Homo sapiens: one gene and its partner. The protein of the gene in region 1 purifies or fractionates together with the protein of each later gene. This does not show direct contact. Each region holds a gene or a part of one and is shown in the gene's direction. Other genes may lie near its edges. The genes, in order: RCBTB2 and NUDCD2.

Region 1 (3,828 bases):
ACTTCTATAGTAGTCCTGGAAATACAATCATTTGATTAAAATAACCACCTCCCTCAAATTCAGCCTTATTTTTGGTAGCAATTCACAGTCAGGGTGTTGATGTTGTGACATTTACCTGTACGTAGTAAGGTCTTCCATAATTGCAAAATTTAAAAGGAGGTATTGTTCCTTCTCTGTTGCTGTAGTAAAGAGGTTATTTGCAATAAGAAAAATCCCCAAATGCTGGAAAAGATGGCTGGGGCAAAGTAGATACTTTTGTGTTACATTTTATTTAATAGTAATTATTACTGTTTGTATAGATAACACCAATAACCTAATTGTATAAAATCATGTACATTGTATAAGAATGCATTTTATAAACACTTCTCTGCCTGTGTTGTGAGGATTTATGAATGTGAAGCACTTTGAGAGGAAAGACTCGGTGCCACAAGTACATGTCAGTGTCCAGTTGAGACAGTTTATAAATTAATCTGTTTCATTTACTGATCTTTCCTTTAAACAGGTATTTGCCTGGGGTTATAATAACTCTGGGCAGGTAGGATCTGGATCAACAGTTAATCAGCCAATCCCTCGAAGAGTCACTGGCTGCCTACAAAATAAAGTAGTTGTGACCATAGCATGTGGGCAGATGTGCTGCATGGCAGTAGTAGACACGGGGGAGGTAAGGAAGTTATTTTACATCTTGTTTAAAAACCGTGTTTGCCACATCAGTCTCATGCCAGTATGGTATGTCCCACATAACAGACAGCTTGCTGGCCATTTGTCTCTTGAGAGGATTGAGGGTCTCATTTTCTCTCAGGTCTATGTCTGGGGTTACAACGGAAACGGGCAGCTTGGACTCGGCAACAGTGGCAACCAGCCAACCCCTTGCAGAGTGGCAGCTTTGCAAGGCATCCGTGTCCAGAGGGTACGTCCACTGTCAGTTTGTGTGCGTGTATTTTTAAGTCTTCGCTGGCAAAGATATCAATGTATTAAAAACATAGATTTGTTGGCAGGATGAAAAGTTTAGCTGCTTGGATGTCTTCATTAAAGTAAAGGTTAAGTCTCTTTTTCCTTGAATTAAATTGCAGCTGTTCAGAAAATTTCTCTTCCAGGGCACTGTCACATACCTTTTGGAATATAAATTGTTACAAGCTTTCCTGAGGAAGCTTAAAAGCTTTTATACCCTTTGACCTGTAGTTCTACTCCTAGGGAATTTCCCTGAGGAACCAACAATTCCTGTAACTGTCTTACAGAATTAGTTAAGAAGATACATATACATATAAAAAGAGGATAACTTTAATAAAAAAAATAGGTGTAACAGAATTTACTAATCAAATCGTAAGTTAATGATTAGATAAATTATGCCAAGTATATATGCTGGAGATGATGTATTGTATACAAAGAATTTTTAATGACATGGAAAACTGCTATGTGTAATGGTAAAATGAAGCAAGATACAGAACTGCTTATACAACATGGTCAGTAAAAAAATGCTATAGGTACATATCTCTATGTCTATATAGAAATAGAAAAAAAATGCCTCTGATATTCAGAGTACTTTTATATTTATATTTTTCTATATTTTTCAAATTGAACATGTTTTACTTTTATAATCAAAAAAGAAAATAATTATTTAAAAAATACAAGTGTCTGTTTCTTACATTCCCCTCATACCCCTTGATTTCTGTGAGTATTAAAGCTCTAGTGAACTGGGGCAGGTGCTCACGCCAGGGTACTCATGGCAATCTTACTGCAATTCTGGCCCACATGTTCTGGAAGGATGTTGGTTAACTTAATGCTTGCCTCTCCTACGGGTAGGCTGCCTCTTCCTTTTTTTTTCATTTTTGATTCTTAACCTACTTTGTGGAAGCAGTGAAATAATTACTTATATTTGCAGTCCTGAGTGGATTTTTTTCCTTCCAGGTCGCCTGTGGCTACGCACACACATTAGTATTAACAGATGAAGGCCAAGTGTATGCTTGGGGCGCCAATTCTTATGGGCAGTTGGGCACTGGCAATAAAAGCAACCAGTCCTATCCTACTCCTGTCACTGTGGAAAAGGACAGGTAACACGGGCATTTTCACAGTCCCCACACTGGTCTTTGGTGATTGTGATTAAACAGGACTTAGATATATAGAGAATGGTGGGGAATGTACTGCTAGTGTTAGAATATTATTTAACAAGAGTATTTATTCCTTTAGAAAAATTGGCTTTGGAATTGTTGGGGAGGTTGATTGTATGTTAAATATGCTATTTTCACTTACCCATGTTTCATCTATACCTCCAACAGCTATTCTAAGCAAACTGCAGTGACTAAACTTGCAACAGCTATTCTGTTACTCTTCTGCCTTACAAATCACCCTTTTGCCCTCCTCCTTTTCCTGTTTTACATTCTTAAGGGGGTGTCAATAACATTCAAGGTCGCTCTTCCCTGGCTTAGGAAAAGGTACCTTGCATGGGGTATAAAGCTGGTCACTCAGCTACATGGAAATTTGCCAGTTGAGAAGGATAGGGTTATTTCATTACTTTAACTCCCAAGCTGTCACTACGAGGAAGAGTAAAATGGTTAGGAAATTAAGATTTACTTTTGTGCACTTGTTTGCAAGGTTGTGTTATGTAATTAGCACATCCAGAATTAGTTTCCACGTTATTCTGATATTTTTGAAAGCCTTTGGAATTTCTCAAGCATGGTCAGATCACTGCCTTTCCACTTTTCATTTCCTGATAGTAGTGTAGAGCAAAAACGTTTCACTATCTTTTCTTTTAAACCAGGGTTGCAGTCATTGTAGAAATGAATGCTGCTGTTTTTACTGCATATATCTTTATTATATTTAATTTTAAAAGAAATATGTAGACAAACAGATTAGCTCACATTTATATGCAGTTCTTTTCTAATTTTCTGCTGGAATACTTAACAATGAAAATGAAGAACCAAATTGTCATTTTTCAACTGCCTCAGTTTTCATTTGGGTATTGTGAACTTGGCTGACTTTCTTTAACCTATGTTTTAAAAGTTTTATTTAACCAATTTAACATAGGTTAATTTTATAGGTTAAATAAAACTTTTTTCTCCAAAAACCTTAAAATTTAAGACCCCTGGCCCCTTCAGAATTGGGAGGAGGGACAATAATGGAGGCAGGAGGTGGTGCAGGTAGATGCCTGCAGCTGTTCATTCACACATCTTGTAGCTTAGAGCTCCTCAGAAGAGAAGGGACAGTCCTGAGGCTTTGAATAACCACAAAAGTGCCTCAGTTGGTAGGGACACTTAACATTTAAACTGAAAAACAGAGTTAAAGGATCAAATAAAGATGGCATGGAAATAAAAACGATGGATTTGTATGGCCTGTTATTTTTTTATTTTTATTTTTTGAGACACAGTCTCCCTGTCTTCCAGGTTGGGGTGCAGTGGTGCAATCACGGCTCACTGTAGTCTTGACTTCCCAAGCTCAGGCGATCCTCCCACCTTAGCCTCTGGAGTAGCTGGGACTACAGGAGCATGCCACCATACCTAGCTAATTTTTGTGTTTTTTGCAGGGCCAGGGTTTTGCCACATTGCCCAGGCTGGTAGCTCCTGGGCTCAAGTGATCCTCTTATCTCGGTCTCCCAAAGTGCTGGGATTACAGGTATGAGCCACTGCGCCTGGCCTGGCCCATTACTTTTTATGGTGCTCCTACACTTACCCAGAACTTTAGCACATCCATCCCTGGTCTCACAGAATCTGCCGTCATTGCCCACCAGTGACTTGCTGCATTGCACTGCTGGTCCCTGATCCAGAATGATCACCCAAGGCTTCTGATTCAGGTTCTCACTGGGGCAGATGGATTGTGGGGCGTCAAGGTGGGAGA
Region 2 (3,828 bases), on another chromosome or scaffold:
TAAGTATGATATTCAATAAAATTTTCTAAATAGGAATTGTGTACCCCTTTGTCTAAGTATAACAATTCACACAAAATTATAGTGCTGAAAACAATTTTAATAAAGGAAAAAGTCCATAAATGTATTTTAAGTAAATTAAGAGTTAATGTAAATTTCTTAATTAGAATATTATTACTTGAGGGATTACTTTATGTCAAGAAGTTTAAAAATAGTTAAAACCCTAACAATAGAAGTGGATTAACACAAAAGAGAAGTGTGATCATGGTAATTAGGTGAGTCCTTTGTGGCAGAAAGCAAAGTAAGGTCACTAATTGTATATCAGTGGCATCATTTTGATTGTAAGTGATTTAGGCATATAGGTAGGAATTGTCTATAGACATTTTATTCAATATCCTATTTATGTCCTTTTTATTTTTTGCCCTTTTTAACTCTTGAAAAAATTTTAAATCTCATGCATAGAAAAGTTACAGATAATTTTTTTCTTTCTGAACCATTTGTGATTTAGTTGAAGACATGATTCCTCATTACTGATTACTATCTGCTTCAAATTATCTTACATGACTACAATGCAACCATTAGAATCAGGAAATTTACGTTGACACATTACTACCCTCTAATCCTCAGATCTTCACTTCATTCACATTGAACTGATTGTCCCAATAATGTCCATATAGCAAGAGGATCCAGTCAGAATCATGCCTTTCATTTAGATGTCAGCTGTCTTTAGTTTACTTCATTCTGGAACAAATTCTCATTTGTTTCCTTTTACAACTTAGTACTTTTGACAATTATGGGCTAGTTTTGTAGAACACCCCTTATTTTGAGTTCTGTCTGATACTTCATGATTAGATTGAGGTTATTCATCTTTGGCAGGAATGTGATAGAAGTGCATCCTGTCATTGTTTAATAATTTCAGTTTGTCTCATTTCTGATGGTGTTTCTTAGATGACTGATTAAGGTAGTGTCTGCCAGACTTCTCCACTGTAGTTATTTTTATAATTATTTCTTGAGAAGATAGTTGCAAAATACTACCTTGTTTCTGATCAGACTTTAAATTTATCGTATCTCTATAAACTCATTATTTTCTATTTTATTCAGCAGGTTAAAAAACCTATTATCATTACATTGGTGCTCAAAATTATTGTACATTTGGCTGGTAGAAGTCCATTCTGGGTGGCCTCTGTGTCCTTCTGACACATTCCCATCATTATTCAATGAATTTGTTACTCTCTGGCATAAGATATACCAGGCTTCTCATGCTGTCCTCGACCTAACCCAAGAATCAGCCATTTTTCCGTAGAGCCTGGGTTCTCTTTAGTGAGTAATATTTAAAAGCCAAGATCTGTGCTAGTGTGCAATTGCCGTTGGTGTGTATATATAATGCATGTCTTTACATCTATATTTCTGCATCTATGTATATTGAAAACCATGAATTCACATATAAATTCTGATCCCATGGGCTTCATTTTCATTTTTTCCTTCTCCACATTTATAACCGTTTTCAGTACCAGTGAGAAACCTGATTCCTATTTGATTATTTGTGGGGTTTTTTTTTTTTAAGGTGGAGTTTCACTCTTGTTGCCCAGACTGGAGTGCAGTCGCGCGATCTCGGCTTACTGCAACCTCCGCCTCCTGGGTTCAAGCGATTCTCCTGCCTCAGCCTCCCAAGTAGCTGGGATTACAGGCATGCGCTGCCACACCTGGCTAATTTTTAATTTTTGGTAGAGACGGGGTTTCTCCATGTTGGTCAGGCTGGTCTCGAACTCCGGACATCAGGTGATCCGCCCGCCTGGGCCTCCCAAATTGCTGGGATTACAGGTGTGAGCCACTGCGCCTGGCCTGATTCTCTATTGTAGGTCATCTCCCCACATGAATGTCTTCCTCACCCTGCTTAGGCTTCGCATCCTATGCTGAGCAGGAATGTCCTCCTCATCCTGCCTGGACCCTAATACCTCACTCCAGGCCATGGCAGTCCATTCACCCTGTGATTCCTATCTTGCTCATTTTAGGAATGAATTGTCGGGGGAAGAGGCTATTTTTCTTTTAATTTTATTCTCTTTGACATTTAACAAAATTTTTTGAGTAAAGTAAAATTAACTTTTTTGGTGTATGGTTTGGTGAATTTTAAGTATAGATATGTGTAAACACCTCCACAGTCAGAGTATTGAAGAGTTCAATCACCGTAAAAACTCTCGTGCTCTCTTTGTACTCTACACACCCTACTCCCAGCCCCTAAACCTTGGAAACCACTGATCTAATCCCCATCTCCATATTTTTGTCTTCAAGCATGTTATAAATGGGATCATATATAATTAAGAAAAACGCTTTATTGTAACAACATACATTTCACCCATTTAAGGTGTGTAATTCAGTAGCTTTTAGTATATACACAGATAAATGCAACCATTCCAATAATCAATTTTAGAATGTTTTCATCACCTCAGATAGAAACCTTGTATAGTTTAGCTTTTATCCTTCTCCTGTCATCCCCCGCCATCCATACTACCTCTTTTCATCTCATAGATTTCCTTATTCTGGACATTTCATGTACATGGAATCATAATACGTGGTCTTTGGTTACTGGCTTCCTTCACTTTACATGTCTTAAGAGGTTCATCTATATTCGAGCATGTATCAGCACATTCATTAGTATGTCTGAAAATACTTCATTGTATGGCTGTAGCACTTTGTTTATACATTTGTAAGTTGGACATTTTGGGTATTTCCACCCTTTGGCTGTCCTGACTAAAGCTGCTATAAACGTGTACAAGTCTTTATGTGCATATGTGTTTTCATTTCTTACCTAGGAGTAGAATTTTTAGGTTATATGATAACTATGTTAATCATTTGAGGAGCTGTCATTGTTTCCCAAAGCAGCTACATCTTTTTACTTTCCCACCAGCAGTGTATGCAGGTTCCATTTTCTCTGCATCCTTGCCAATACTTGTTTACCTGACATTTTGATTTTAGTCACTCTAGTGGATATGAAATGGGATCTCTATCTAGTTTTGGTTTGCTATTCTCTGATACTATGTTGAGCATTCTTTCTTGTGCTTATTGGCTATTTGTGTATCTTCCTTAAAGCAGTGTTTATTCAAATTATTTACCCATTTTTTTAGTTGTCTTATTGGGTAGTAAGAGTCTTTATATATTCTGGGTACAAGTCTCTTACCAGGTATATGATTTGTAATTTCTCCTATTCTCTCTTTACTTTGTTGATAGTGTCTTTTGAAGCACAGACTTAATTTTGATGAAGTCTTATCCATCATGCCATTGGTGGATCATGTTTTTGGTGTCATGTCTAGGAACCTTAACCCCAGGTCATGAGGAATTTTTCTTTTTTCTTTTTTTGACTCACATTCTCACTCTGTCACCCAGGCTGGGGTGCAGTGGCACAATCTCCACTCACTGCAACCTCTGCCTGCTGGGTTCAAGTGATTCTTGTGCTTCAGTCTCCCAAGTAGCTGGGACTACAGGTGTGCACCACCACTCCCAGCCCATTTTTTTTTTATTTTTTATTTTTAGTAGAGTTGGGATTTCACCATATAGGCTAGGCTGGTCTTGAACTGACCTCAACGGATCTGCCCGCCTCAGCCTCTGAAGTGCTGGGATTACAGGCATGAGCCACCGTGCCCGGCCTATGGATTTTTTTCTTCTAAAAATTTTATAAATTTAGTTCTACATTTAGATCCGTGATCCATTTTAGGTTAATTTTTGTATAAGCTGTGAAATTTAGGTAGGTTTATTTTTTTGCATATGGATGTTCAGTTGTTTTAAAATCGTCTGTTGAAAAACTCTCCATTCCCCATTGAGTTGTCTTTTCACCTT

What was found.
Region 2: the proteins of RCBTB2 (region 1) and NUDCD2 purify together in Homo sapiens (affinity purification with mass spectrometry; 2 studies listed by BioGRID and IntAct, with this or other methods). This does not show direct contact.

The regions. Positions count from the first base shown.
Region 1 is NC_000013.11:48,508,849-48,512,676, reverse strand, and holds part of RCBTB2 (RCC1 and BTB domain-containing protein 2), read left to right. Parts: intron 1-502; coding exon 503-661; intron 662-799; coding exon 800-907; coding exon of another isoform or gene 908-1,000; exon of another isoform or gene 1,001-1,519; intron 1,520-1,905; coding exon 1,906-2,048; intron 2,049-3,828.
Region 2 is NC_000005.10:163,449,784-163,453,611, reverse strand, and holds part of NUDCD2 (nudC domain-containing protein 2), read left to right. Parts: 3' UTR 1-3,828. UniProt on the Homo sapiens protein: May regulate the LIS1/dynein pathway by stabilizing LIS1 with Hsp90 chaperone.